Linked DNA regions of Homo sapiens: region 1 is linked to region 2. Evidence: fine-mapped expression QTL. A gene starts in region 2. The other region holds a variant in brackets. All regions are shown on one strand. Distances are from middle to middle. Region 1 overlaps PGGT1B (protein geranylgeranyltransferase type I subunit beta). Region 2 holds the start of PGGT1B (protein geranylgeranyltransferase type I subunit beta).

Region 1 (2,917 bases), 50 kb after region 2:
TCATGCCTCACTGCAGCCTCAACCTCCCTAGGCTCAGGTGAGCCTCCCACCTCAGCCTCCCGAGTAGCCGGAACTACAGGCGCACGCCACCATACCTGGTAATTTTTGTATTTTTTGTAGAGATGGAGCTTCACCGTATTGCCCAGGCTGGTATCGAACTCCTGTGGCTCAAGGAATATGCCCTTCTCGGCCTCCCAAAGTGCTGGGATTACAGGTGTGAGCCACCACACCCAGCCTGTTTTGAACTTTAATAGCTCTTAAGGCCATAAATGTCGGCCAATTCAAAAATAGAAAAAAATTTTGACTGGTACAAAACTGTCTTTTTAATGTTCCTATAACTGCAAAGCTCTGAGCTCTTCAGAAGTCTACATAAGACTCCTAGGCAGGAATGGCCATGTGATTTCATTGGCCACTTTAATAGAAGAGGATCGCTGCCCCCTGAAAGATGGGAAACTAGTGAGCCAGTGCAGAATTGTCATGGTATGAGCACTCATATTATTTCAACCAAATAGAATGTGAGTTTGTTTTTATTGTCAGATCAGATATTTTTACAATGACTGACATTACCCTAAATAGGAGGATTAAATATGGCACAGCATTCCAGAATGGATTATTTTTGCATAAGCTCCTTTTATTTAACACAATGTTAGGATAGTACTGCATATGGTTTAGGAACTTTCAGAGGTAAAACGTGGAGCGAGGGATATTGCAACTTAGATTCAGAGTTTTGTTTTCGTTTTAAAGAAAAAAAAACTTAATGATATAGCATTGAAGCTACTCGTTTTCATGTTCTCTAGTAAGCAAGAGGGGAAACTCCCCAAAGTGAGAAGTCTTACATATGACTGCTGCTACTCCTGTCTTTTAATCACAGAGGTTATGGACAGTATCAGCTCTTCAGCTGGAAACTGTTTTCCTTTGTTAATGATATTTTCATGAATAAAATATTTTATTTTGATCATCTGAGTTTTTTTTTTAATTGGTGTTTGAGGCTTTGAGAAAGCAAATATTTTTAAAACTATATTAGCATTTCTCTAAACTTACTTTTAATGGAGTGATGGGCTGGTAAATATGTGGCTAAAATATTCTGTAGAATGTACAAGTAAGAATGCCTATTATGATGTTTTAAATGCCTTCTTTTCAGATGCTTTGCATGCATACTTTGGGATCTGTGGCCTGTCACTAATGGAGGAAAGTGGAATTTGTAAAGTTCATCCTGCTCTGAATGTAAGCACACGGACTTCTGAACGCCTTCTAGATCTCCATCAAAGCTGGAAAACCAAGGACTCTAAACAATGCTCAGAGAATGTACATATCTCCACATGACTGATTTTAGATTGGGAGGGTGGGGGG[A/GA]TTTGTAGCATAACTGTAGCTCAAGTTTAAAAGCCATGTATAACCAAGTGTGCTCTTTTTTTAAAAGGTAGAGTCTTACAATCAAATCTCCTGCTGATTTCACTTTGGGATATGGTCTTGAGCCAGTAATCTTTATACTGGGTTTCAAGAAAATCTTTGTTGAAGTTTGAACCACAACTTTGTCGTGGTTCTTAAATGTTTATACTGTATTTCTAAGAAGTTGTTTGAGGCAAATTAACTGTATGTGTGTAGGTTATCTTTTTAAAAACTCTTCAGTGCAAATTGTATCTTATTATAAAATGGACACAAATTTTCAAGTTTACACTTCATATAGCATTGATAATCTTCAGGTGAACACTTAGTGATCATTTAAAAAGCTCACTGCTGATCGTAGAAAATTTGCTTTAATTAATTAAGTATCTGGGATTATTCTTTGAAAACAGATGACCATAATTTTTTTTAAAGAAGAGTGACTTATTTTGTCTTATTCTTAAGTAAAGTGTGCCAATTAAACCTGTGTGGCCTATATAAATGAAGTTAATAACTTCATAGTAAGAATAAATAGGTTTAACTAATGTGATAGTTTTCTAAAAGGAGATTGTTTGAAGACAACTATTATGTAACTGAGGGAAAAGCAACTTAACTGTATGTGATTGTGAATGAGAAAGTTTTGTGCTATGTGGGTCATTTATCTAGACATTGCTGTGGTGAATACCAGTTATGTTTGATTTTATTCTCAAATCATTAGTTGCCTTTTTTTTTTTTTTTTTTTTTTTGCTTTCTAGGAAGAAAACAATCTTTTTTATCTAGAAGGAAAGATACTTTGTGTTTTCATTTTTAGCCATTTGAAGTTTTTAATTTATTGCCCCCAGTGTGTTAGCTGCTCTAATTTCAAACTAATACTTTTCTAATTTTTTTCAAATTAAATAAGTAAAAAATACAAAAACAGAACCATTCAAACAGATTCAGTGGTGTAACTCAATACATGGTCATTTTTATTCTCATATTTTCAGGTAAGTGAAAGGGAAATGCGACCATTTAGAGGGTAAGAAATAGGGTTTTGTTTTTGTTCATTGTTTTGTTTTAAGTCTATGAACTAGCTAATTATAAAGGAGGTAGTATAAAAACTCTTCATTAGTAATTAATTTATCAATAACTCATATCCGTTACTTGCTCAGTGACATTCAGAACTATTGCGTCTAGTACTGAAATGGGGAAAGAAATCTCTTCACTAAAGGAGTTGGCTTTAAGTTAGTCTTGGTGATAATAAATGTTGAAATACAAGTATCAGTATAAAAACTGGATTACTGGTATCACTGTTTAGGCATTGTAATACTTTAAATGTTATCTTTTTTTCTAAATCAGAGGGAAAAAAATGTTGTGAAATAACAGTCCTTCCCAAGGGAAACACTGTGTACTTGGAGAAATGATTGATTTATTATTGGCATGCTTAGTTTTAAACCTGAGTTTGCCAACTGTATGTTTTTTAATTAGAAATAAAATAAATCTTCTGATGGTGGGGGAAAAAGTAAGCTTAATAACAGATGTTATCCGTCTATGGGTTATT
Region 2 (2,917 bases):
GAGAATCAGATGAAACATTTGGCTTCCCTAACTTAAGGGCCATGTTTATTAGAATTAATTTTCTGAGAATGTATAGAGTGTCCATAGCTGATTCCAGTAAGTTAAATGTGTATAAGACTCCACTTTAAAAATCTTCAGGCATTTGGGGGTATGTGTGCTAAGTGAGAGATCTTAATTTTAATAACAGTGGAAACTCCAGACTGGGCACACCTGAAGGGCAAGGACTGTGAGCTCCGTATTTGTAGGGAAGTACCGAGGACAGCCTAGAATCCGTCTGTGGCTGTTAAATGCGGCATTTTGTAAAGACATGCAGGAATACCTGTGAATAAGTAGTTAATAGTACCAAAAATTATTCAGAGCACTTTGGATTGTTGAATAAGTGTAAGATTACCCCAGCCCATAGAGTATAAGAATTACATTTTCTAAGAAAGCTAACAAAATTAAACCCAAAATTTTATTAGCTAAGTTGATCACAGGGAACCTAGTTTAGTTATATTATTGGGTGGATCCCCCCACCCGCTACTCAGGAATGCCTCATGAAAGTTTAAAGGGCATAGTATACCGGCTAAACAACTTAAATCCCTATTTTTGGAAAAAAGAACTAGAAGCATGTTTAAATTTTTTAGAATGCAGGTAATTGGAGAAGATATTGAGCTTATTTTGCTGTTGCAGATTGATGCACCATTGATTCTTGATAACACGTCGACTCAAGCAAAGTAAAATCTGTAAGATTTGTAAAAGAATGACGCAAGCAGTCATATATAGGTATGAATATGCATGTTGTATATGTTTGGGGGCATTATACACAGATTTTTAAGTGATTCCTGGTATCCAGAAAGGATTAAGATTAGGAAAGTCTCTGAGCTTTTGTAGTGTCAATAAACATTTATCTCCACTGGTTTGTTTTTCTGTTTCCCTAACCGTTCGGCTTAAAACTGGCCCTCCAAAAATGAATCTGTTAGCAAGTTTATACTGATCCATCCTCGTTTTCAGATATACCATCCTCAGGTTCTACAGAGCCAGAATTGTCTCAAAGCGTACTTGATGCTTTTGACCTTGCGCTTCCCAAGATAAAAATTCTGACGGAGGGATTTGTGGACTTGATTTTCACAAGGCCTGCGAGGTGTTTACAAGCCTCGAGGGCTTTGAGTAGAAAAGGTAGGGTCATGCGCTAGCTAGGGAGATATCGGAGAGAGGAAGTGCTGCACAGGACCCAGATGATAGCGGTTTCAAATACTGGCTTAGTCTGCGGCGGGCGCAGGTCCCCTCACCCGGCACCCTGTGGTTCAGCACAGGAGGGTTCTTTCTCTCCGCGGGCACTGATTCCGGGTCGCGGCGGACGTCGCTTCCGGAGCAGCATGGCGGCCACTGAGGATGAGAGGCTAGCAGGGAGCGGTGAGGGAGAGCGGCTGGATTTCTTACGGGATCGGCACGTGCGATTTTTCCAGCGCTGCCTCCAGGTTTTGCCGGAGCGCTATTCTTCACTCGAGACAAGCAGGTAACTCGTGGCACAGTCAGCCAGGCTGGCACAAGGCCCGGGCTCCAGCGGAAAGGCGCGGCGGAGTCGGACCGCAAACTGGGCGCCGGAAGGGGGCTGCGCGGCCGCCCAGTTGGCACTGACTGGTTTCAAGTGGGCTTGAGGTTACCCCCACTCTCCCGCCGTACGGTGGGAAGGTCTGGAAGGCTGTAGGTCGAGGGCTGTGGCATCTCCAGTTTCCGGCTTTTTCACTTCCCTTTTCTTCTGGCAACTCTGAGCTGCTTTTTTACCCGCTCCCATAGCCTGTCACTTTGCCTCATTACTTCCGAGTGTAAAAGGAAAAGGACAAAGTTTGTCGTCGTATTTTTAGATGAATACTTCTGTGCATCCTTGTCCTCTCTAAAGTCATTAACTCTTAATAGAGTGTCTGTATGGTGTTTTATGTGTAGGAGCGGCAGAGAACCTCTAAGGTCTTAGAAACTTTGTGGGAACTATAAATCTAATGGTAGGCGAAAGAGGTGTGGTGTTGCGTGAAGCAGCCTGTTAAAAGTATCGCAATAGCTGAAGAGTGTGGTGCGGCAGAGACTAAGCGACTTCATTTACAGTAAAAGCTGGGGATGAGAAGAAAGAAAGGAGAAGGCAATCTTTGCTCCGCATTGCTGTGTTTTGAAGTGAAGCTCAAAAGCTGCTTGAGACTGGATGGGAGGAAAGAGCGGCTTGTTTTTGCTGTGTTCTTTCCCCACGTTTTCCAAATTCTGAGTTGCTGGTGTATTTTGAACACTGCATGACCGGATCAGTTTGGGGAGCTTTGCAGATTACTTCTGCACACTTGGTCAAGAACCACATTATGGTAGGTGCCAGAGTACAGCTGAACAAGACAAGCATTTGTATAGAGTTCTGTGCTATATGTTAGTGTAGTGTTCATAGGAGTATATAGACAGGCATGTACATAATCCAGATATCTTTAGAGAGGCCTTCCTTAAACACCCTTCCTAAAGGGACCACTTCCAATGACCACCTCACATTACGTATGTATTGGTTTATTTGTTTAATGTCTTTCTATTACACTGGATTATAAACTTCACAAAGGTAACATTTTCGTCTATCTTGTTTACCTCTATACTTAGGACTGGGCTGCCCTGTCCAATCTGGTAGCCACTAGCCACATTTGGCTATTTTGATTTGAATTAATTAAATCAAATTAAAAATTAAGTGATTCTTTTGGTAGTAGCCACCACATTTCAAGTACCCAGTTGCCATATTGGCCAGTGGCAATTGTTTCTATTTCAACATTTGCAACAGCTTAGTCCTTTTGGTCAACATTGCACTAGGACCTTAAATAGTACCTGGTATCTGAGAAGCACTAAGAAATATTTGTTGAATAATGTGAGCTGAGCCCTGAAGGATGAACAGATTCTCACAAAAGAAAGAGTGAAACGT

The links.
Region 1: its variant is fine-mapped to the expression of PGGT1B in visceral fat (GTEx, PIP above 0.99). The same link has a PIP of 0.9 or more in coronary artery and transverse colon.

What each region holds. Positions count from the first base shown.
Region 1 is chr5:115,210,808-115,213,724 of GRCh38, reverse strand. It overlaps PGGT1B (protein geranylgeranyltransferase type I subunit beta), which reads left to right. Exons shown (of 9, transcript NM_005023.4): 9 at 1,142-2,917. The coding sequence ends at 1,323. Among named protein-coding and RNA genes, the nearest start is that of TRIM36, 42 kb to the right of the region's middle. The variant A/GA (reference allele first, on the strand shown) is at 1,351.
Region 2 is chr5:115,261,293-115,264,209 of GRCh38, reverse strand. It overlaps PGGT1B (protein geranylgeranyltransferase type I subunit beta), which reads left to right and starts at 1,333. Exons shown (of 9, transcript NM_005023.4): 1 at 1,333-1,498. The coding sequence starts at 1,359. RefSeq lists enhancers at 1,215-1,264, 1,295-1,474.